Linked DNA regions of Homo sapiens: regions 1 and 3 are each linked to region 2. Evidence: fine-mapped expression QTL. A gene starts in region 2. Each other region holds a variant in brackets. All regions are shown on one strand. Distances are from middle to middle.

The links.
Region 1: its variant is fine-mapped to the expression of CCDC159 in whole blood (INTERVAL, PIP 0.97).
Region 3: its variant is fine-mapped to the expression of CCDC159 in visceral fat (GTEx, PIP above 0.99).

What each region holds. Positions count from the first base shown.
Region 1 is chr19:11,445,601-11,453,766 of GRCh38, forward strand. It overlaps PRKCSH (PRKCSH beta subunit of glucosidase II), which reads left to right. Exons shown (of 18, transcript NM_001289104.2): 9 at 672-750; 10 at 1,474-1,560; 11 at 1,839-2,018; 12 at 2,093-2,189; 13 at 2,622-2,691; 14 at 2,940-3,029; 15 at 3,314-3,388; 16 at 3,476-3,575; 17 at 3,666-3,828; 18 at 5,046-5,368. The coding sequence ends at 3,812. ELAVL3 (ELAV like RNA binding protein 3) reads right to left here. Exons shown (of 7, transcript NM_001420.4): 7 at 5,726-8,166. Among named protein-coding and RNA genes, the nearest start is that of PRKCSH, 14 kb to the left of the region's middle. RefSeq lists enhancers at 6,512-6,561, 6,592-6,711, 6,636-7,406. The variant G/A (reference allele first, on the strand shown) is at 4,565.
Region 2 is chr19:11,342,463-11,350,635 of GRCh38, forward strand. CCDC159 (coiled-coil domain containing 159) reads left to right here and starts at 4,057. Exons shown (of 11, transcript NM_001080503.3): 1 at 4,057-4,165; 2 at 7,192-7,225; 3 at 7,476-7,564; 4 at 7,656-7,737. The coding sequence starts at 4,145. TMEM205 (transmembrane protein 205) reads right to left here and starts at 3,806. Exons shown (of 3, transcript NM_198536.3): 1 at 3,058-3,806; 2 at 2,790-2,953; 3 at 316-658. The coding sequence starts at 3,157. The coding sequence ends at 353. RefSeq lists enhancers at 3,327-4,157, 8,008-8,173.
Region 3 is chr19:11,633,284-11,641,456 of GRCh38, forward strand. No RefSeq gene overlaps it. Among named protein-coding and RNA genes, the nearest start is that of ZNF627, 40 kb to the left of the region's middle. RefSeq lists a silencer at 6,389-6,478. The variant C/T (reference allele first, on the strand shown) is at 4,673.

The DNA of each region.
Region 1 (8,166 bases), 100 kb after region 2:
AAGCCCCGTGTGACCCCGCCTCTTACTCGTGGATGGCCAGGTCCAGGATGCCCTGGGCGAGGAGATAGGGGGACCACCCTCTCCCCAGGAGCTGGGCACAGACCCTCAGCCTCAGGGAGTGTGTCTAGGCATCTAGTGATCGGATGGCTTTTCCCAGCCCCACTACGCTCTGGGGAAAGCCAGACCTGGGTTCGAATCCTGGCTGTGCCTCTGAGCTTGCTGGGTTACCTGGTGGAGGGTGGACTTTTGGGGGCTGAGAGGCACACGGGGAGCCTAGGAGATGTCAGGTGCCAAGGAGCAGGGGGCTTCAGAGGGACCGAATGGGCAAGGGTGGGGGTGGGCTTTGCTGGGTGGGGGACCAAGGCAGATGGCAGCTTCAATGTGCCGGGTCCTGGGGTGGAAGGAGGTGCCACCTGGGTGAGTTGGTAGAGAGGTCATCGGACATTTGGGGGTCCAGGTATCTCCCAGTCCCACCCCTTACTTTGAGCTCCTTTGGGGTCATGGAGTCCTGAGGAGGGGGCAGGAGGGTGGGGAGGCCCCTACACCTTGAGGTCCTGAAGCAAGTTCCAGGGTGGGGCCCTGCAGGGAAGAACAGGTGGGCCACATGGTGCCCCCAACTGAGAGCCACTGGGGCCTCACCCCTCCAGTCTGCTTCTGCCACGCCCCCGCAGGGTCTCGGTGACTGAGCTGCAGACTCACCCGGAGCTGGACACAGATGGGGATGGGGCGTTGTCAGAAGCGGAAGCTCAGGTACCCCCGGCTGCCCCTTGGTTGGGGACTTCTAGGGAGCATTGCCCCAGGGTGACCTCAGGGCACAGGAGGGGGACCAAGGAAAGCTCCTTGCTGGCCTGGGATGCCTCCTCTGGGTGAGCTGGGATGGCAGCCACTCAGGGCCGCTTCCCGCCTGGCAGGACCCGGGATGGAGCCAGGTCGCGCTGGAGCCCGTTTCCCCGCACCTGCCCCCACTCTACCCGCTGTTGAGCACCCAATCCCCTTCCTCCCCCACCCCTGTCCTGCCCTATTCCCCTCCTCCCCCACACCCTCGTCCCCTGTCTGTCTCCTTTCCTATCCTCCTCCTTCCCCGTGGCCCCTGGCTTCTGGCCTCCCTTCTCTGCCCACCCCTGGGTTTCTCCCTCTCCATCTGCAGCCTGGGCCTTGGCCTCTCCCTTGGAGGGCCTGGCCCTCTCTGGTCCTGGGCTCTCTCTTCCTCCATCTGTACGTCCGTTTGTCCATCTGCTTCTCTCTTTCTGTCTCAGTGCCCCCAACCACTCCAGCCCCTGGTCTCCTCCTCCCCTCCCACGGGCCTGTGCTGCCCCCTCCTGGCCGCAGTGCCTCACTGGCGTGGCCCTGGCCTGGTCATCAGGGCCCGGGGCCCAGCCCTCCCGTGCCTGGCACCGCAGCCCGGGTGCCGGGGTGGCCGAGATGGGGGACACGTGGTGGCCTAGATCTTGACACCACCCCCAACACACACAGGCCCTCCTCAGTGGGGACACACAGACAGACGCCACCTCTTTCTACGACCGCGTCTGGGCCGCCATCAGGGACAAGTACCGGTCCGAGGTCAGTGGAGGAGAAGGGAGGGGACTTGGTCCTCCCACCACACTGCCCCCACCCCGCCTCACAAAGGAGCTGCCTCTGGTTCTGGCACCTGGCCACCCTGGCCAGCTGGGTGGCCCCAGCACCCCCCACCGAGACCCCCCGACCCCAGCTGTCGGTCCTCCCTGCAGGCCCCGCAGGAGGGGCAGAGACACCGAGGCTGCCCCTTGGGCTGTGGTGTGAGCCTGAGGGTGTGGGTGGACCCTGAGTCCACAACACCGACCGCACTGCTCACCCGCCAGGCACTGCCCACCGACCTTCCAGCACCTTCTGCCCCTGACTTGACGGAGCCCAAGGAGGAGCAGCCGCCAGTGCCCTCGTCGCCCACAGAGGAGGAGGAGGAGGAGGAGGAGGAGGAGGAAGAAGAGGCTGAAGAAGAGGAGGAGGAGGAGGATTCCGAGGTGCAGGGGGAGCAGCCCAAGGTCCGTGTTTGGGGGAGAAGTGGAGACAGAGAGGGTGGGGGAAGGGCTACTCACTGACCCTGCCCCTGCCCCAGGAGGCCCCACCGCCACTGTCACCCCCGCAGCCGGCCAGCCCTGCTGAGGAAGACAAAATGCCGCCCTACGACGAGCAGACGCAGGCCTTCATCGATGGTGAGGGTGGGCGGGGGCCAGGCTCCTCGGGTGGGCCCAGCGTTTCCTGCCGTGGTGGCACAGGTCGAGGGAAGATCCTGAGCTTAGACCCTGCTCTGACTCGGCCAGCACAAGCCCCAGTATCTTGGGGAGTCCAGGAAGGGGGCCTAGGGTAAGCCAGTCCCACCCTCGCCAGCCCCAAGGGGCCCTTCTGCCTCCCCAAGGGCCGCAGCTTGTTTGTGTCACTCCTGGCCCCACTCGCTCAGGAGCTGGGAGCCTGGGCAGCAAGTCGGGGCTGCTCTATAGCTGGTGAGGCCCTCAAGGCTGTCGGGGTGAAGTCCTTGGCCAGAGCAAAATGAGGGTATGGGAGCACACAGCCACATCCATGGAACCCCGTTCCCCATCCTCCTGGATGGGGTTGAGGACATCTCTGACCTCCAACCCCTCTCCCAGCTGCCCAGGAGGCCCGCAACAAGTTCGAGGAGGCCGAGCGGTCGCTGAAGGACATGGAGGAGTCCATCAGGTAGCGGGGGCTGAGGAGCGGGGACACCTGTCCCACAGCGACTGCTCCTTGACTCCCAGGGGAGCTGGTGATGGGGAATCACTGAGGCAACCACAGGCTGGGCCTGGTCCCTGCAGGGAGGGTCCCTGGGAGGTGGCAGGGAGGACAGCCTGGGCACCATTGCTCAGCCAGACCCTCCTGTGTCTGTCGTCCTGGGTCAGGCACTGGCGTCCCCAGCTGCCCCTTAACCGCTCCGCCTCCCCTTCCAGGAACCTGGAGCAAGAGATTTCTTTTGACTTTGGCCCCAACGGGGAGTTTGCTTACCTGTACAGCCAGTGCTACGAGCTCACCACCAACGAGTGCGTCCCAGGAATGCAGGGGCCCCCACTGGCAGGGTGGGAGGCGGGTGGCCCCGGAAGTGGCACCGGCAGTTTCCTGATGGTTGGGGAACCATCTGCGGGTGGGGCCCGAGAGTGCTGCCTTCCATATTGAGGGGGAGCAGAAGCCAGGGGCCAGGTTTAGGGTTGGTCATTGGAGTTGGAGGTACCCTGTGTGTGGGGACTGGAGGAGGCGGTGGGGGGTGGCTGTGGGAGGAGGCTGGAATCCCTGCGTTCCCCAACCCATATGTCCCGGTCCTCCACAGATACGTCTACCGCCTCTGCCCCTTCAAGCTTGTCTCGCAGAAACCCAAACTCGGGGGCTCTCCCACCAGCCTTGGGTGAGTGGCTTGGGCTGGCCCCTTCCCTCTGCCTCCTCCTGGTGCCCCGACACCGGCCCAGCCCTCAGCACCCTGTGTCTCTCACAGCACCTGGGGCTCATGGATTGGCCCCGACCACGACAAGTTCAGTGCCATGAAGTATGAGCAAGGCACGGGCTGCTGGCAGGGCCCCAACCGCTCCACCACCGTGAGTGCCTGCAAGGCAGGGGAGCTGGGGCGGGGAGACCCAGGCCTGGCCCAGCCGAACCCTCTCGAGCACCCGTCTGCCCATCCCCAGGTGCGCCTCCTGTGCGGGAAAGAGACCATGGTGACCAGCACCACAGAGCCCAGTCGCTGCGAGTACCTCATGGAGCTGATGACGCCAGCCGCCTGCCCGGAGCCACCGCCTGAAGCACCCACCGAAGACGACCATGACGAGCTCTAGCTGGATGGGCGCAGAGGTGGGCGGGGAGGTGGAGTCTCGTCGGCCTGCCCCAGCAAGGGGAGGCGGCGGGCCCTGAGGAAGATGGACCCACATGGCCACTCTATCAACCTGTGTCCCCATGTTCCCTGCTTTTTTGTTTTGTTTTTTTGAGGTGGAGTCTCACTCTTTGGCCCAGGCTGGAGTGCAGTGATGCGACCTCAGCTGACTGCAACCTCTACCTCCCGGGTTCAAACAATTGTCTTGTCTCAGCCTCCCAAGTAGCTGGGATTACAGGTGTGCACCACCATGCCTGGCTAATTTTTAGTAGAGATGGGGTTTCACCATGTTGGCCTGGATGGTCTCGAACTCCTGACCTCAGATGATCCACCTGCCTTGGCCTCCCAAAGTGCTGGGATTACAGGCATGAGCCACCACACCCGGCCATCTCCTGCCTTTTTTTTTTTGGATGGAGTTTCACTCTTGTTGCCGAGGCTGGAATGTGGAATGCAATGGCGCGATCTCGGCTCACTGCAACCTCCACCTCCTGGGTGCAAGCAATTCTCCTGCCTCAGCCTCCTGAGTAATTGGGACTACAGGCGCCGCCACCACGCCTGGCTAATTTTTTTGTATTTTTAGTAGAGATGGGGTTTCCCTGTGTTAACCAGGTTGGTCTCGATCTCCTGACCTCGTGATCCGCCCTCCTCAGCCTCCCAAAGTGCTGGGATTACAGGCTTGAGCTACCATGTCTGGCCATCCCCTGCTTTTTAAAAAAA[G/A]ATTTTTTTACTTTTGAAACTAAATAGGCCAGGCGTCGTGGCTCACATCTGTAATCCCAGCACTTTGGGAGGCTGAGGTGGGCGGATCACTTGAGGTCAGGAGGTTGAGACCAGCCTGACCAACATGGTGTAAAACCCCATCTCTACTAAAAATACAAAAAAATTAGCTGGGTGTGGTGGTAGGTGCCTGTAGTTCCAGCTGCTCAAGAGGCTGAAGCACAAGAATCACTTGAACCCAGGAGGTAGAGGTTGGAGTGAGCCAAGATCATGCTACTGCACTCTCCAGCCTGGGCTACAGAGTGAGACTCTCAAAAAAAAAAAATAATAATAATAAGAGAAAATAGACAAGGTCTCCAGGCTGGTCAACTCCTGGCCTCAAATGATCCTCCCACCTCAGCCTCCCAAGCAGCCGGGACTACAGGCAAACATCACCATGTCCAGCTGTCCCCAGCTTTCTAATCTGGTCTTTCTCTTGCCCCAGAACCTCAAGAAGGCATGAAGCCAGCCCCTGCAGTGCCGTCCACCCGCCCCTCTGGGCCTGCCTGTGGCTCTGTTGCCCTCCTCTGTGGCGGCAGGACCTTTGTGGGGCTTCGTGCCCTGCTCTGGGGCCCAGGCGGGGCTGGTCCACATTCCCAGGCCCCAACAGCCTTCAAAGATGGGTAAAGGAGCTTGCCCTCCCTGGGCCCCCCACCTTGGTGACTCGCCCCACCACCCCCAGCCCTGTCCCTGCCACCCCTCCTAGTGGGGACTAGTGAATGACTTGACCTGTGACCTCAATACAATAAATGTGATCCCCCACCCAAACTTGTCTGTGTCTGCCTCGCTTTGCTGGGGTGTGGACCGGGGTGTGGGCAGGGGTTGAGCGCAGGGGACGCAGCTTTCTGCAGATCCCACCCGGGCCTCCCCCACCATCTGGGGATCACTCCTGAAGATACCAGGTGGATGGACCCTGGACCATTTCTGTCTTGAGCATCCATCCGGGCCCGTGTCCCACCTTCCCTGGGTCTCATCTGTGCTCTGTGGAGGCCAAGGGTTCCCTCCCGGGGCCAAAGCCCCTGCTGCAGACAGACCCAGGCCCAGAGAAGGACGGGGGCCTGGGCGCTACTACACAGGCTGCTCCTGCGTGCTCCCCGCGCAGCGGTGCAGAGATCACCCAAGGCCTTAAGATTCTGAACTTTTATTTTCTGGCATGAAAAGTACAAATAATTAAACAATTCCATGTAAAAGTCTGTTACCGCGGCCAGGCCTGTGATCCCGGTAATAAATAGTCTAAACGCAACGCGAAGTGTTCTTGTTGGGTTTTTTTTTTTTTTTTGTCTTTTGTTTTGTCTTTTTTTTTTTTTTTTTTTTTACAGTTTTTTATCACCTCCAACATGGACTCTGTCGTGATTTGAAACCTTCCGAATAAATAACAGGATGAAGGGAGGGGTGGAGGGGCTGAGCCCCCTCCCCCCTGGCCTGGCCCCTGCCCCCCAGGGACGTGGAAGCCCCAAGTCCCCCTCGCCTGGGAGCCCCGGCCTGGCCCCCTGCGGGGAGGGGCTGGCCTCCAGGGAGGGGGCCTGGCTGGGCTGAGTTTTGTGTTTTAGAAAAAGAAGTCCCCTCCCAGTCTTGGGGGTGGCAGGGGCCTAGGCCTCGGTGGGGGGGGGGTGTGTGGGGAGGTGCCCCCTCTCTGGAGCCTGGCCCCCCCCAGGGTGGGGGACAAACCCAGCCCTTATTGCTCGGACGCCCTGCTGCAAGCTTCCCACGCGGACGTGCGTGTTCCCGAATGCAGAGGGCGGAGGGGAGAGAGCCCCAAGAGACAGCAGGGGAGAGGGGTCCCTGCCCTGCTGCAGGGGAGAGGAGAGAGGGCAGGGAGGACTTAAAACCACGAGAATAAATAGGTTCGTGTATCAAGAACAAGCTAGGGATTTCACCAGCTAAATAGGACTGAAAAAATTCTCAAGACAAGAGCAAAAAGAATCCCATTGGTGACCTGGACGTCGCTGGCCGTGGGGACTGTCCCGCAGAGCACACGCCCCCGCGTGCCACTCGGCTACCATTACTGTTATTAATAATTATTATTACTTTAATGATTCCACTTCCCCTTTTATAAATAAATTAGGCATAACCATGTCTCGGCAAAACTTAAAGAAACAAAGAGAACATTGTCGTTCCTTTAACTTGCAAACCGGATGAAGTAACAGAAATATACACGGATGTCCTTACAGGGCAACGAGGAGAATAAATAGTTAACATAGCAATAAGTTAAAACTACAAGAAGCTAAATTCAGCAAAAAAGTACAAGAAAGTTAACTGGTGCCAGTTTATGTCTTTTTTTTTTTTCCTTTTTTTTTTTTAAATCTCTTCTGTGTGTTTTCTTTTTTTGTTGCTTTTTTTTCCTCTTCTGTTTGTGTTTTTTTGTCGCTTTTTTGATTTTTTTCTTTTTTGTTCCTTGCAGCAGAAGCTCCACAGACGTTTAATAACAACACCGGGAGGGGTGGGGGAGAGAGAGCTGGACAGTCAGATGGGGGCGCCATAGCCAGACACCAAACGTGGGGACACCGGGGGAAGGCAACTTAACTATAGCTAAAGTCGGGGGTTTTGCAATTCTCAGTTCCGATGGGGCCGCTGAGTGGGGTGGGGAGCGGTGCGAGGGCTCCCAGGGGCTCCGGCCTGTGGCTTCTGTTGGAATTTTTTTTTTTTAAAGAAAGAAAACTAGGGCGATGCAATGTCCAGACAGAAGCCGGGGGCCGGGGCTCGAGATCGGGGGCTGTGTCCACTGCAATCTGGAAAGACGAAAAACCCAACAAACCGAAAGGGGATAGGTAGGTGACAAGTGGACGGGAAAGGAGTGTGGGGCTGGGCCTTTGGGCCCATCCACCCCACCCTGGGCCTGGCGGGGAGTGCCGGGGTCTTGCTGCCGGGGAGGCCCAGTCCTGGTGGGGGAGGCTCAGGGCTGGGCCTCTCCCTCAGCTGTGTGGGCCAAGGCCTCGGCCCAGGGGGAGGCTGAGCCCCGGGGACAGGGGTGTCCTTTGGCCTCAAGTGTTGTGGGGGGGGGGGCTGCCTCCAGCCCACCGTGACGCCAAGGTGGAACGAGGTATCGTGTGTCTCAATGCATGTGCGCTGCGTGTGCACGCCTGTGTTCGTGGGCGCCAAGGAGACCGCTGGGGGTCCAGGAGAGATCTCTGCAGAGAACCTGGGGGCCAGGGCGAGGGGGCCGAGAGGGTGAGGGAGCGTCTGGGGCAGGGTCTGGGGTGGGACCTCCTGCCTGGGCCTGTGGGATGCTATGGGCATATGTCTGCGTGTTCCTGGGTGGTGTTTGTGTTTCTCCGTGACCTGGTGTCCAAATTTGATGTCCAAATATCTATCGCTACATTCACGTGTGCACGTGGACAGGTGGATGGATTCGTGTGCCCACATCTGTGGTCTGTGTCCACATGGACGTAGCCCCAGCTTCTGTCTCTTTCTGTCTATCCCTGTCCACGTGTCTGAGTTTGGCCAACCAGTCCCTTAACGTGTCTGGGGCATGTCGCTGTGTCCGTCTGCGTCTGTCCGTGTGTCCCCGTGGTGTGACTGTCTGCGTGGTTGTTTCTCTGTGTGGCCCCGTGGGCTGCTAGCCCCTA
Region 2 (8,173 bases):
AGGCAGAGGTTGTAGGGAGCTGAGATCGCACCACTGCACTCCAGCCTGGACAACAAGAGTGAAACTCCGTCTCAAAACAGAACAAAACAAAACAAAACAAAACAAATAATACATGATATGTCAGTGGTTAACAACATGTCTGGTATACAGCAGGTGCTCAATAAATGGGCATCATTATAGGAGAGGCTTACAGGATAAAATGGCTGACACTCCAAACCATCATGCTTCATGAATGGGGAAACTGAGGCTCTTGGCTCTACCCTTGCCTGCCCCTCCCCCTGCTTCTCATGGGGGAAAAAAAAAAGACAGCAGCCATTTCTGAAGAAGCATTTATTAGCATGCAGGGCCCATGCTAGAGGCTCCTTATTTCCAGGGCAAGGCCAGCGAGACAGAGCCCATTGCTCAGGACGCAGCCCAGATTGCAAAGAGAGGACAGCCCATGGTAGCGGAAGAAATTCTGGCGGAGAGCACTGTACTTGGGGTCCTTCTCTCGCAGCTGGCGGTAGGGATCGGGACCCTGGTGGCTGCCTGGTACCTCCCCACCCAGGCCTCGCTCCTTCTCCACGGTTTGCAGGGCCCACATGGCAGCTGTGGTGCGGGGTTCCAGCCAGCGGGCGTTGACAGTGGCCAGCGTAAGGCTCAGGAACAGCAGGTAAAGCTGGCAGGGAGAGCAGAGGAGAAGGTGAGCCATGCCTGGGAGGCCAGAGGGGCCCTAGGGAGGGTCTTTCTGCATCCTCAACAGCACAGGGGTGGGGGTGGGGACAGCACTGGATCAAAAAACCTGCCTCCCCCTCTTTCCTTGAACCCAGACTGAGGGACCCAAAGCAGAACTCCAGCTCTTCTACTCTGAAACTGGCAGCTCTGAAGGAAAGGCTCCATCCCCACCTCCTCTATCCCCCCGCAAAACCTCCCGAGCCTCTTCTCCTCTGATACTCAGACTGGAAGTCCCCAGAGCAGGATCTCTTTCCTCAGTGGCCACAGCCCAGACGCCTGAAGCTGACATTGGACCCACAGAGGGTGAATAAAAAGTCTTTGAGTGGCTGGGCGCAGTGGCTCATGCCTATAGTCCCAGCACTTTGGGAGGCTGAGGTGAGTGGATCACTTGAGGCCAGGAGTTCAAGGACAGCCTGGGCAACATGGGCAAAACCCCGTCTCTACTAAAAATACAAAAATTAGCCAGGTGTGGGGGCTGTCCCCCTGTAATCCCAGCTACTCAGGAGGCTGAGGCATGAGGATTGCTTGAACCCGGGAAGGAGAGGTTGCAGTGAGCCAAGATTGCACCACTGCACTGCAGCCTGGGCGACAGAGCAAGACCCTGTCTCAAAAACAAACAAAACAAAACAAAAAGTCTTTGAAGGCAGGCATGGTGGCTCATGCCTGTAATCTGTAATCCCGGTGCTTTCAGAGATGGGGGTGGGAGCATCACTTGAAGCCAGGAGTTCAAGACCAGCCTGAACAACACAGCAAAGACCCTCATCTTTTTTTTTTTTTTTTTTTTTGAGACTGAGTTTCACTCTTGTTGCCCAGGCTGGAGTGCAATGGCGTGACCTTGGCCCACTGCAATCTCCGCCTCCTGGGTTCAAGCAATTCTCCTGCCTCAGCCTCCCAAATAGCTGGGATTACAGGCGCACACCACCACACCCAGCTAATTTTTGTATTTTTAGTAGAGACGGGGTTTCACCATGTTAGCCAGGATGGTCTCGCGCTCCTGACCTCGTGATCCACCCACCTCAGCCTCCCAAAGTGCTGGGATTACAGGCATGAGCCACTGCGCCCAGCCTATTTTTTTTAATTAGGAAAAATGTTTTTGCCATTCTCACATTGCTATAACACCATCTCTATCTGTTTTAAGTATTTGAATACCTTCTGAGCCTGTTTCATTAAAATAAATAAATAAAAGGAAAAAAAAACAGTCTGTGAAGTTCTAGTTACCCATAATCCCCTCCTGTCTGTGAGATTATTCTTGAAACACCTGTCAGGTCTCACTTACCCACGTCTATGAAACATAATGCAGGCAAGGGAAGGCCAGAGTAAATAGAGAAATCTGAGATGCAGAGATAGTTTCTTGCCTTGTGGCCAGAAAAATGTGTGGAAGGGGATAGGAAACCATAAATTCCCAGTCGGGCTGGTTTTTAAACAATAAGCTGGGGTCAATGTGCCAGCTCAGCTGAGTCACCACAGCTTGGCAGCAGGCCCAGCCAGCGGGAGGAGAGGGAACAGCAGCTAGCAGGGAGATGCTGGGGGATAGACAGGGCTGCTGGGGACTGTTGTACAGGCTGTGCACTGCTCAAGGGTATCCAGAGCCCAGCTTTGTATCTACCAGGAAGAAGGGGCTCCCCTCCCCTCCCTTCCTCTTCCCTCCCCTCTCCTTTCCTCTCCTCTCCTTTCCTTTCCTTTTTTTTTTTTTTTTTGAGATGGAGTCTTGCTTTGTCGCCCTGGCTGGAGTGCAATGGCATGATCTCGGCTCACTGCAACCTCTGCCTCCTCGGTTCAAGCAATTCTCCTGCCTCAGCCTCCTGAGTAGCTGGAATTACAGGTGCACACCACCACGCCTGGCTAATTTTTTTGTATTTTTAGTAGAGACGGGGTTTCACCATGTTGGTCAGGCTGGTCTTGAACTCCTGACCTCGTGATCCGCCCACCTCGGCCTCCCAAAGTGTTGGGATTACAGGCGTGAGCCACCATGCCTAGCCTTTTTTTTTCCCCCCCTGGAAAAGGTGTAGCCATAGGCGCTGACTGAGGTCCTGGGAACAAGTCTCCAGAGGGCAGTGGCACTCAAACCCACGTACCTGGCTGGCCTCCCAGAATGTGAGCTGAGCCCAAGCATGCTGTGAAGCCAAGATGCAGAGGTTGATGAAGGCACAGCCCATGGAGATGTGGAAGTAGAAGGGGAAGAGTTTGCTCTGCACTAGTCCGAAGGTATGTCGGGGAAGGCTTCGGAAAAGCAGGAAGCCTGCAGGGTATGGGGACCACAGGGGTGTTAGGGCACTTCCCGGTTCCCCTCTTATTTCCATCCCCACCCCAGGTACCCATGACATCCAAGCTGAGGGTCCCTACCTGAGACGAAGGTCACCCACATTTGCATGCCCCAGGCACCTGACAAGACCAGTAGATGGACCATCTTAATCAGGCCTCCTAGGTTCCCGCCTTCCTCCATCTTGCAGTCCTGGGAAGGAGGCACCGGGTGGCTCAGAACTTTACCTTTGCCTCATGCGTGGCCTTCAGACCCTGTGAGCCCGCTCGGGGACAGGGTTACGGCCAATCCAGCAGAGATTCTGGCAAAGCATCCCGGGAATGAGAGTGAGAAAGGCCCAAAGCAGTCAAGGCCCAAAGACAACCCTCGACCCCATCTCTCCAAATGTCAGCCCTCAAGATCTCAGGCTCTCTGGACCTCAATCTCCATGCCACTTCAGAGGCCCCAAATTTCAGCCACAGCAGCTCCAGATCATAGCCCTAGGTCTTCAGAGATCACTCCACTAATTCCCAAATATCACCCCAGGGATCCAGTTCTGACAGCCAAGACCACTCCTCTCATAAAATAATACCGGATATTAGGTGAAGATCCCGAAAGCCCCGAGGAAACCCTAAATCTCATCCTGAGGACACCGATCCCACCAAAGCCCCGAGGAAACGCCAAATCTCATCCCGAGGACACCGATCCCACCGTTAGGAACCGGGACCTCAATCCGCAGCACCCGGATTCCGAGAACAGAGGCGTCGGGGCCAAATGGGCTGAATCTGGTACCTCACTCCCACGCCCCCGGGTGGACAGCGACCCTCCTCGGCCGCGTCCCCTCGTGGGTTTCCCCCAACCAATAATTCGTCCCGCCTCCCAGCTGAGCCCGAAGCCAATCGGGTCGTAGATCTGCACCTTTCTATCCCGCCCTCCTGGGTATTGACTAATCGTAGAAACCCCCCTGGGATCCCGCCCCCTCCACGGGCTTTTATCCAATTACGCCGCGGCTACTAAGCGCAGCTGAAGCGTGAAGGCGCCAATGAGGCCTTCGGCTACTCCGGCAGGGGCGGAACTAAAATGCCGGCCACACCCCTCTCTGTGACTCAGTCTCTGAGCGTTTTAATACGATGGTGTCCCCGCGGGATCAAACTTCAGCGTCACAGCTGAGGACTGGCTTCGTGGTCCCTGATGGGAGAGCATGAACAGGTGGTATGTGGTAGGTGGGGTTCTGGAGCCTGGCGGGTGTAGATTTCACAACCCAGGGGGCGGAGCCAGGATGATGACCCCGCCCCCTCCCTAAATAATTCTCCCGGGAGGGACACGGAAGCAGCAACCGGGATGGGACGGGGAGAGAGGAGGCACTACTGGGGACCTAAGCTGGTTCTCAAATGCCTCTCCTTTTCCCCTCCAAGCCTCCCAGGCTTCCTATGGTCCCTAAGTCCCGGGTTCTCAGCGTGACATTCCAGAGCAAACACAGCTCCCCATTACTCTATACCAGGCACTGGCATGGATTAATTTATCTAATCACAACATCCCAGTAAGGTGACTATTATGACATCTCGTTTTTATAGTTGGGGACACTGAGGCATGGAGAGGTTCAGTAACGCGACCAGTATTACACAGCTGGAAGGGACAGAGCTAGGATTTGAACCCAGGCCATCTAGCTGGAGAGTTTCCCTGCTTAACCGTCATACTCTGCTGTCCCTGGAAGTGAGGACCTCCCTGAGGCAGTGACTCTCGGAGGGGCAGCTTAGGACATTTCAGGCAGAAGAAAAACGTGTACATCACAGGGTGGGTGTGAAGATCCAGTGAATGCTTAGGGGATGCCCGGCACTCAATTAGGTGCTCAGAAAATAGGAGCCTAAAAAAGGATTAAGGAAGATTTTACTGAAGATATGCTGAATAGTTTTTGTTTGTCTGTTTGTGTTTGAGACGGAGTTTCGCTCTCGTTGCCCGGGCTGGAGCACAGTGGCATGATATCGGCTCACTGCAACCTCCGCCTCTGAGGTTCAAGCGACTCTCCTGCCTCACCCTTCCAAGTAGCTGAGATTACAGGCATGCGCCACCACGCCTGGCTAATTTTGTATTTTTAGTAGAGATGGGGTTTCTCCATGTTGGCCAGGCTGGTCTCGAACTCCTGACCTCAGGTGATCCACCTGCCTTGGCCTCCCAAAGTGCTAGGATTACAGGTGTTAGCCACCGTGCCCAGCCTGAGTAGTTCTGAAGAGCGTGTAGGAGTCTTCCAGGTCGACTGAATCAGGCAGAGGGCCTGGCAAGGGTGACAGAGAGAAAGGTCTAGAGGATTTGGGGGAAGAGGCTGAGTGTGACTCAGGGCAAGGTGCCTTTCACCTAGAAGTTTCTCCAGGCAGACCTGCCCCAGATATCTCCATCTGTGCCATATGTGGCTATACTGGAGGGGGAGGGGAGTTGAATGTGAGACCCAGAGCTCAGCTGTTTCCTGTTTCCAGCCTCTTCTAGCACGGGTCTGGGCCCCAATTCAGCTAACATTTATTGAACAGATATGCCCTGCCTCTCCTGCTCACACTCTATGGCTGGCATTCACCTGTGGGGCCAGGTCGAAACTCCTGGCTTGGCCGTCAATGCCTTACTGGAGCTGCTCTGCTAACCTCCTGCTGCTTCCTCTCGGACCTCGATTCAGCCATCATGAATTTACCAGCATAGAGCATGTGATTCCACACCTCCAAGCTTTTGCACATGCTGCTCCCTGCCAGGAAAGGCCTTCCTTTAAGCCAATGTCAAGGTCCCTTTTTTCTTTGGACTCTTCTGAGGCCTGATTTTTTTTCTTTGGGGCCTTCTGGGTCCTTCTCACTGCCCAGCCCAAACCTTGGGGCTGGGATAATCTTTTTTGTTGTTGTTTTTTATTTTTGGAGACTGAGTCTCACTCTGTTGCTGAGGCTGGAGTGCAGTGGTGCAATCTCGGCTCACTGCCACCTCCGCCTCCCGGGTTCAAGTGATTCTCCTGCCTCAGCCTCCCGAGTAGCTGGGATTACAGGCGCCCACCACCATGCCCAGCTAGTTTTTGTATTTTTAGTAGAGACGGGGTTTCACCATATTGGCCACGCTGGTCTCGAACTCCTGACCTCAAGTGATCCTCCCGCCTTGGCCTCCCAAAGTGCTAGGATTACAGGCGTGAGCCACCATTGCTGGCCGCGTCTGGCCTTGGGATCATCTTTTATCCAGCTTTGGCTCCTACCATAACTGAGAAGCCTTGAGTTTAGGGCTGAGGCCTCTCTGGCATGTCAGGGAGGGTCTGGGGGCACTGGGGACATGGGGACTTATCTCAAAGCAGCCCCTGCTTCCCTACTCACAGCGACCCTCTTTTGGCCGGCCTACCCCGGGACCCTGACTACTCTGTGTCCTGCCTCTACTCACCTCCCTCACCCTCCAGCATGTGTTTGCCTGCTAACATGAAGTGTGACAAGTACTGGGGTTAGTTAGGGGGCTCCCATAGGGCTGGGGACACTGGGAGGGGCTGGGAATGTGAGGAGTGCCCTGCACTGTCCCTCAAGGAAGCCCTCACCCCTAGGCTCTTCCTCGGACAAGGCTCTGGAGCGTACAGCTCACTGGTCCAGGACTCCAGAGCCAGAGACCTTGGGATGCCCTGCTTCTGGGGACACAGTGAGGACTGCAGACTGCAGGCCAGGGTGGGGCTCAGGGCCTTCGCCACATGAGGCTGCCCCCTCCCCCAGTCCAGACCTGCAGAAGCAGTGCTGTAATGACCAGGACATTTTGAAGAGGCATCACAACGTAGCTAAGGTCACCCCCACCCGGGAAACCCCTTCAATGCAGAAAACCACTGCAATCTACTGCTGTGGGGCTTAGGGAAGGGGCTGTAAGGCAGAGAGACTCCCATGAATGCACCCACTGTGTTTCTTCAGCACCTAGAACAGCACCTGGCACTCAGCAGGCCCTGGCTAAGCAAGTCTTAAATGAATGGATGAAGGAATGAATGGAAGGAAAGAGTGTGGTTGTGTGTCTTCCATGGGGATTTGGCTGTGATCGTCTCTCAGCCACATAAGTGCACTTCTGAGCATATGTAGCCCAAGGGGGAGGTGCATGAATATGCCTGGAGTGCAGCTTTGCCTGCACTTACGGTTTGGGACACCTAGAACTGAGGAGATCCAACTCTTGTCCAGCCCTCAAAACTGGGTTGAGGTGAGCAAGGAGGCAGCTCAGGGACAAATTTCTACTCCCATCTCATCTCTCTTCCTTAGAAGCCCTTGGAGACCAGCTCTTCCAAAGTCAAAGGTGAGAAATCTCCTTTCCAACAAAACTGTGTGGGGAAGACCTGCTGGTTTCTACCTCTACCCTCTGCCCCAGCATCAGCTGTCCCCCTGCCATGGTCACCCATTCACTCCTGCCCAAGGCTGAGTGGGCCCCTGTTCTATATCTTATCCCCTGTCCCTACTGCTACTCTGAGCCTTTGCTGACCTCTGCCCTGCCCTTGCCCCAGACCCCACCCCTTACAGCCCTGGCTCACCCTCTTCTCTGCCCACAGCCAAGACCATTGTGATGATTCCCGACTCCCAGAAGCTCCTGCGATGTGAACTTGAGTCACTCAAGAGCCAGTTACAGGCCCAGACCAAGGTGAACCACCTTGGCCCTGCCCCCAGCAACCTCTGTTTCTCCTTGCCCTCCCCTCCTTCCTCCCACCCCAAGGCTGACCTCTTTCCCCCAGGCTTTCGAGTTCCTGAACCACTCAGTGACCATGTTGGAGAAGGAGAGCTGCTTGCAGCAAATCAAGATTCAGCAGCTTGAAGGTGAGGACTGACCAGAGATCAAGGTCAGGCTAGGCCAGGCGTGGTGGCTCACGCCTGTAATCCCAGCATTTGGGGAGGCCAAAGAGGTTGGATCACTTGAGGTCAGGAGTTTGAGACCAGCCTGGACAACATGGTGAAACCCCATATCTACTTAAAAAAAAAAAAAAAAAAAGCCAGGTGCTGTCACTCATGGCTGTAATCCCAGCACTTTGGGAGGCTGAGGCAGGTGGATCACCTGAGGTCAGGAGTTCGAGACCAGCCTGGCCAATATGGTGAAACCCCATCTCTACTAACAATACAAAAATTAGCCAGGCGTGGTGGTATGCACCTGTAGTCCCAGCCACTCAGGAGGCTGAGAAAGGAGAATTGCTTTCTGGGAGGCAGAGGTTGCAGTGAGCCGAGATCACGCCACTGCACTCCAGCCTGGGCAACAAAG
Region 3 (8,173 bases), 290 kb after region 2:
TTCAAGCTGGCTGCAGAAATTTGCCTAAGTAGCAAGGAGCCAAATGTTAATCCCCAAGACCATGGGGAAAATGTCTCCAGGCCACATCAGACACGTTTACACAGCCCTTCCCATCACAGGCCCGGAGGCCCAGGAGGAAAAAGTGGTTTCACGGGCCAGGCCCAGGGTCCCCGTGCTGTGTGCAATGTAGGGACTTGGTGCCCTGTGTCCCAGCCACTCCAGCCGTGACTGAAAGGGGCGAACGTACAGCTTGGGCTGTGGCTTCAAAGGGTTGAAGCCCCAAGCCTTGGCAGCTTCCGCATGGTGTTGAGCCTGCAGGTACAAAGAAGTCATGAACTGAGGTTTGGGAACCTCCACCTAGATTTCAGAAGATGTATGGAAACACTTGGATGTCCAGGCAAAAGTTTACTGCAGAGGTGGGGTGCTCATGGAGAACCTCTGCTAGGGCAGTGCAGAAGGGAAATGTGGGGTCAGAGCCCCCCCTACAGAGTCTTTACTGGGGGCACTGCCTAGTGGAGCTGTGAGAAGAGGGCTACCATCCTCCAGACCCCAGAATGGTCGATCCACTGACAGCTTGCACTGTGCACCTGGAAAAGCTGCAGACACTCAACACCAGCCCGTGAAAGCAGCTGGGAGGGAGGCTGTACCTGCAAAGCCACAGGGGCAGAGCTGCCCAAGACCATGGGAACCCACCTCTTGCATCAGTGTGACCTGGATGTGAGACCTGGAGTCAAAGGAGATCATTTTGGAGCTTTAAAATTTGAGTGCCCTGCTGGATTTCAGACTTGCATGGGCCCTGTAACTCCTTTGTTTTGGCCAATTTCTCCCCTTTGGAATGGCTGTATTTACCCAATACCTGTACCCCCATTGTATCTAGGAAGCAACTAGCTTGCCTTTGATTTTACAGGCTCATAGGCGGGAGGGACTTGCCTTGTCTCAGATGAGACTTTGGACTGTGGACTTTGGGATTAATGCTGAAATGTGTTAAGACTTTGGGGTACTGTTGGGAAAGCATGATTGATTTTGAAATGTGAGGACATGAGATTTGGAGGGGTCAGGGGTAGAATGATATGGTTTGGCTGTGTCCACACCCAGATCTCAGCTTGAATTATATCTCCCAGAATTCCCACATGTTGTGGGAGGAATCCAGAGGTAGTAATTGAATCATGGGGGATGGTCTTTCCCCTGCTGTTCTCATAGTAGTGAGATGGGTTTATCAGGGATTTCTGCTTTTCCTTTTTCCTCATTTTCTCTTGCCGCTGCCATGTAAGAAGTGTCTTTTGCCTCCCGCCATGATTCTGAGGCCTCCCCAGCCATGTGAAACTGTAAGTCCAATTAAATATCTTTTTCTTTTTTTCTTTTCTTTTCTTTTCTTTCTTTTTTTTTTTTTTTGAGATGCAGTCTTGCTCTGTCACCCAGGCTGGAGTGCAGTGGCATGATGTCAGCTCACTGCAACCTCCGCCTCCCGGGTTCAAGCAATTCTTCTGCCTCAGCCTCCTGAGTAGCTGGGACTATAGGCTTGCACCACCATGCCTGGCTAATTTTTGTATTTTTAGTAGAGACGGGGTTTCACCATCTTGGCCAGGCTGGTCTCGAACTCCTGACCTCATGATCTGCCCACCTCAGCCTCCCAAAGCGTTGGGATTACAGACGTGAGCCACCGTGCCCGACCAACATCTTTTTCTTCCCAGCCTCAGGTATGTCTTTATCAGCAGTGTGAAAACGGACTAATACATGGTTATTACACATTGTATGCCTGTATTAAAATATCTCTTGTACCCAATAAATATATACACCTACTATGTACCCCCCCACACACAAAAGATAGCGTTCTTTGTGTTTTTAAATAGGTTTTGCCTTAAAGTCTAGTCAAGTATGATAATGGCATATCCACTCTTGTTCTCTTTTGGTTACTATTTGCGTGGAATACCTTTTTACCTCTGTATTAGGCTTTTCTTGCTTTGCCATAAAAATACCTGAGGCTGGATAATTGATAAAGAAATGTTTTATCAACTCATGTTTCTGCAAGCTTTATAGGAAGCATGGTGCTGGCATCTGCTCAGGTTCTGGGGAGGCCTCAGAGTTTTTACTTTTGGTGGAGGGTGAAGCCGGAGCAGGCCTCTCACGTGGCAAAATAGGAACGAGAGAGAGAGGTAGAGGGGAGGTGCCACACACTTTCAAACCACCAGACCTTGTGCGAACTCAGAAGAAGAGCTCACCTATCACTAAGGGGATGGCCCAAGCCATTCATTAGAGATCTGTCCCCATGATCCAAACACCTCCCACCAGGCCCTGCTTCCAACCTTGGGGATTGCAATTCAATGTGAGATTTTGCGGGGATGTACATTTAAAGTATATCATCTTCCATTCCATTTCGAGTATTTTTTGTCTTGGGGTATAAAATGAGTGTCTTGGTCATGCATTATGGCTCATGCCTGTAATCCCAGCATTTTTATTTTTTTAAGACGGAGTCTCGGCCGGGCGTGGTGGCTCAAGCCTGTAATCCCAGCACTTTGGGAGGCCGAGGCGGGCGGATCATGAGGTCAGAAGTTCAAGGCCGGCCTGACCAACATAGTGAAACCCTGTCTCTACTAAAAATACAAAAAATTAGCCGGGTGTGGTGGTGTGCACCTGTAATCCCAGCTACTCAGGAGGCTGAGGCAGGAGAATCGTGTGAACCCGGGATGCAGAAGTTGCAGTGAGCCGAGATTGTGACATTGCACTCCAGCCTGGGCGACAGTGGGAGACACTGTCTCAAAAAAAAAAAAAAAAAAAGATGGAGTCTCACTCTCGCCAGGCTGGAGTGCAGTGGCGTGATCTTGGCTCACAGCAACATCCGCCTCCCAGGTTCAAGTGATTCTCCTGCCTCAGCCTCCTGAGTAGCTGGGATTACAGGCTCGCGCCACCACACCCAGCTAATTTTTGTATTTTTAGTAGAGATAGGGTTTCACCATGTTGGTCAAGATGGCCTCGATCTCTTGACCTCGTGATCCACACGCCTCAGCCTCCCAAAGTGCTGGGATTACAGGCGTGAGCCACCGTGCCCGGCCATTCCTAGCATTTCTGGAGACTGAGGTGGGAAGACTGCTGGAGGCCAAGACTTCAAGTTCAGCGTGGGCAACATGGTGAGATCTTGTGTTGAGAAGAAATTTTTTAAAATTTACACAATTAATGACATTTTAATGTCATTCTATCAATCAATATTAGGTAAGTATTAGGTGTGACTGATATTCTGGATATGTATAAAATTAACTCAATATTTGAGATATGAAAGCTGCCAGGGCCAGGCGTGGTGGCTCACACCTGCAATCCCAGCACTTTGGGAGGCTGAGGCAGGCGGATCACCTGAGGTTAGGAGTTTGAGACCAGCCTGGCCAACATGGTGAAATCCCATCTCTACTAAAGATACAAAAAATTAGCCCAGCATGGTAGCATGCACCTGTAATCCCAGCTACTGGGGAGGCTGAGGCAGGAGAATCGCTTGAACCCAGGAGGTGGAGGTTGCAGTGAGCTGATATCGTGCCACTGCACTCCAGCCTGGGCAACAGAGTGAGACTCTGTCTCAAAAAAAAGAAAAGAAAACTGCCTTTTATTTTTAATTTTTTGTATTTTTATTTTTGAGACAGAATCTCACTCTGTCACCCAGGCTGGAATGCAGTGGCTCAATCACTCATCACTGCAACCCCAACTGATTCTGGGCTCAAGTGATTCTCCTGCCTCAACCACCCTAGTAGCTGGGACTATAGGCACATGCCACTACGCCTGGCTATTATTTAACTTAATTTTTTTTGGGGGGGGATGGAGTCTTGCTCTGTCACCTAGGCTGGAGTGCAGAGGCGTGAACTTGGCTCACTGCAACCTCTGCCTCCTGGGTTCAAGCAATTCTCCTGCCTCAGCCTCCCAAGTAGCTGGAATAACAGGTGGCCACCACCATGCCTGGCTAATTTTTGTTTTGTATTTTTAGTAGAGATGGAGTTTCACCATGTTGGCCAGACTGGTCTCAAACTCCTGACTTCAGGTATCCACCCACCTCAACCGCCCAAAGTGCTGGGATTACAGGCATGTGTCACCGCACCTGGCCCCGCCAATGTTTTTAACTTAAATTTTCATACTCATGCACGTAACTCCACATTCTCCTCTATTCACAGGCCCTGATAATCTCTATTCTACTTTATCCCTTTATGAATTTGACTATTCTAGGCACCTCATATAAGTGAAAGTATACAATATTTATTCTGGTGTCTCTGGCTTATTTCACTTAGCATAATGTTTTCAAGTTGCATGCATGTGTTAACGTGTCAGTAATTCATTGCTTTTTTGTGCCTGAAAATATTCTATTGTAGGGATAAATCACCCTTTGCTCATCCATTTGTTTGTTGATAAACATGTGGGTTTTTTCCACAGTAATATTCTGAATAAGGCTGCTATGAAATTGGTGTACATGTGTCTCTGTGTGTTGTGCTTTTGATTTTTTAGGATATATACCTAGGAGTTGAATAGTCACAGGGGAATTCTAAATTCACCTTTTTAAGGAACAGCCATACTGTTTTACACAGTGGCTGCAATGTTTTACATTCTCTACATCAGTGCACAAGGATTCCCGTTTCTCCATGTCCTCATCCACACTTATTATAATTTTTTTTTTTTTTTTTGAGACGGAGTCTCACTCTGT[C/T]GCCCAGGCTGGAGTGCAGTGGCACAATCACAGCTCACTGCAGCCTTGACTTCCCTGGCTCAAGTGATCCTCCCACTTGAGGATCACTGGGACCATAGGTGCTAAGATGGGACTACCGGTCTGACCCCTGCTTTCCATCGTGGCCTGAACTAGATTTCTAGATTTTCAGGTTTACTTTGGGATGCCCTTAGCCGAGAGGGGAATCCTTCAGTTTGGGAGAGAGGGGTGGGCTTTGAATTTTATTTTTGGTTTACACATAGAATAGCTGGAGTCGGAGTGTGATTTGATATATGTAGAAAATCTGTTAAGGTCAAGACCCATTGGATTACCTTATGGAGAAAAGGTTTATGAATTTGACAATTTATGTCAGTCAGTACCTTAAACTGACTCCAGGTGAGTTTCCTGCTGGTGAAAATGAAGGTCTGGGGCTGGGCGCGGTGTCCTTGTCTCTACAAAAATACCAACATTAGCCAGGCATGATGGCGGGTGTCTGTAATCCCAGCTACTCTGGAGGCTGAGGCGGGAGAATCCCTTGAACTCGGAAGGCGGAGGTTGCAGTGAGCGGAGATCGCGCTATCGCACCCCAGCCTGGGCGACAGAGCGAGACTCTGTCTCAAAAAAAAAAAAAAAAAAAAAAAAAGAGAGAATATGATGAAGGTCTGGAAGGAGAGAGTGTTGCCACACTATGCAGACAGGACAGGAAGGCATGTTGAGAGCCTAGAGTTAAATCCTTCAGTGTTCAGGCCTCATCACCAGGTTCTGATCGGTTCTGGGGCTCTGTTTCAGCAGTCAGAACCTGGCTCCCAAGAATCTGTTTAACCTCCTGAATAGGGGGTTTCCTGCTGAACAGTGGCTGAAAAACTGCTTCTCTGAGCTAGTTCATGTTTTTGCTTTTCTTCTCTTTTGATTCCTTCATAGAATATTGCTGCCATATAATTCCAGTTTTTCCACACATTTAACAATTTTATTCCATTGTTGCTGTGTTTTTATTTTCTTGGTGAAAACGAGTAGACTCCAGGGCGCGGTAGCTCACGCCTGTAATCCCAGCACTTTGGGAGGCCGAGGGGGGCGGATCACGAGTCAGGAGATTGAGACCATCCTGGCCAACATGGTGAAACCCCGCCTCTACTAAAAATACAAAAATTAGCTGGGGGTGGTGGCGCGTGCCTGTAATCCCAGCTACTCAGGAGGCTGAGGCACGAGAATCGCTTGAACCCAGAAGGCGGAGGTTGCAGGGAGCCGAGATCGCGCCACTGCACTTCAGCCTGGCGACAGAGCGAGACTCCGTCAAAAAATAAAATAAAAAATAAAAAAATAAGACTGAGAGATCAGGTGGGAGAAAGGCTTGGTCATGCAGCCAGCAGCTTCATCCCAAATTCCTGATCCCTGGAGGACATCAGACCCCCTCTCCTACTGCAGTGTGGCCTGTGTGGCCTCGGCTCCCCTTCTGCTCCGAGGCCAGGGGATGTCTCCACTGGACAGTGAGTCTGGGATTCCCTGCACACAGTTGTGACCCCCCAGTCCCGGAGGAAGAAGCAGGAAGGGCTCGCAGACTATTGGCAGGAATTCTTCTTAAATGCAGATATTCCCCGGGAGGGGTCAGGTCACTGCCCAGGGAGGAACCCCCCCTCCCCCGCCCGCCCCATGCCAAGAGCTGTGTCTGCAACCTGTTCATCTGGCTCCACTCAGCACTGGGAGATCACTTCTTCTGTCGCTCAGTGCCTAGGGGGCGGGACCTGGAGTACTATCCAATCAGAGCCGCTGGGCGGGGCCGTGAGAACTGTCAATCAGGCGTCCAGGAGGCTGGAGGATGCGAGGTTGAAAAAGCCCGCGGCGTCTTCTCTGTCACCCGCGCTCGGCTCCCTGCTCGGTCGGGCTGGAACCTGTACTGGCAGCCGGAGGTGTAGGTAGGAACCGGAATACCTCGGAAGCCGGGAAATGGTGAGTGTCCGAGGCCGGGGTTCCCGAGACAGGGTACAGCTGGTTGTAACCGACCGGAACCGGCTGTGGCGGGACCCAGACCTCCTCGCTGTTGTCTCTGGGGTCTGAGGACCCGAGTGCCCTGGCCCAGCTCGGTCCTCGGTCCTCTCGGCCTCAGGGTGGGGCTGGGCCTGCAGCCAGGACTCCGGGCGTCCTGTCCGGTCCCCGCGCGGCAACTGCGGCCCAGGTTCCGGAGTCCTCTCTGGGCAGCTCCGCGTCCGCAGCCCCGCGTCTCCCTAGATTGTGCGGGGACACGGGAGGGTCATGGGGGGAATCCTCCTCGGGTGTGGGGTTCATGTGGAAGGAGCAGCGGTCTGTGGGGTCCCCAGTTCCTCCTTTGTCTCCAAGGGGCTCGAGTTTTTACTGAGATATCCAGATATATGCGAAGCAGGGTCTCAAATCCGCAACTGTGATCCCTGGCCTAGCTTCTCCTAGGGCTGCCAGCAAATCCCTGGATTTCCAGATCCCGCTCCGCGTTTTAGAGCTGGCCTCCTCTTCAGTTCACCACAACAATGTCAACTCTTCGTCCCCCAGGCTTTGTTTCAAACATAGCCATATATATGTGTGTGTGTGTGTATATATATATATGTGTATATATATATATATGTGTATATATGTATATATGTGTGTGTATATATATATATATATATATATATATATTTTTTTTTTTTTTTTTTTTTTTTTTTTTTTTTTGTGACAGAGTCTCGCTGTGTCGCCCAGGCTGGAGTGCAGTGGCGCAATCTCGGCTCACTGAAACCTCCGCTTCCTGGGTTCAAGCGATTCTCCTGTCTCAGACTCCCGAGTAGCTGGGATTACAGGCGCCCGCCACCACGCGCGGCTAATTCATGTATTTTTAGTAGAGACGGGTTTTCACCGTGTTGGCCAGGCTGGTCTCAAACTCCTGACCTCAGGTGATCCACCCTCCTCAGCCACCCAAAGTGCTGGGATTACAGGCATGAGCCACTGCAACCGTCCTCACACGTTTTTCATGTATATATGAATTATATATATATTAAATATATATATATAATTTTTTTTTTTTTGGTGGAGACGGAGCCTCACTCTGTTGCCCAGGCTGGAGTGCAGTGGCACGATCTTGGCTCACTGCAACCTCTACCTCGCGGGTCTCCTGCCTCAGCCTCCCGAGTAGCCGGGACTGCAGGCGCGTGCCACCATGCCCGGCTAATTTTTGTATTTTAGTAGAAACGGGGTTTCACCATGTTGGCCAGGCTGGTCTTGAACTCCTGACCTCAGGTGATCCGCCCGTCTAGGCCTCCCAAAGTGCTGGGATTATAGGTGTGAGCCATGGCGCCTGGCCACACGCAATATTTTAATAGGCTTTTTTTTTTTTAAGAGGGCAAAATATGGCTCTTTTTGTAAAGATTTGTTGTGTGTTTGTGAACATTTCACACTTGAGGAAGCGGAGAAAAAGCACCTGACACTTGCTGTAAACAATCTTTATGCCTCTCCTCCTTTTATCTGCCCGAGGCACGGACACCTTCTGAGAATGTCTTTGGGTTG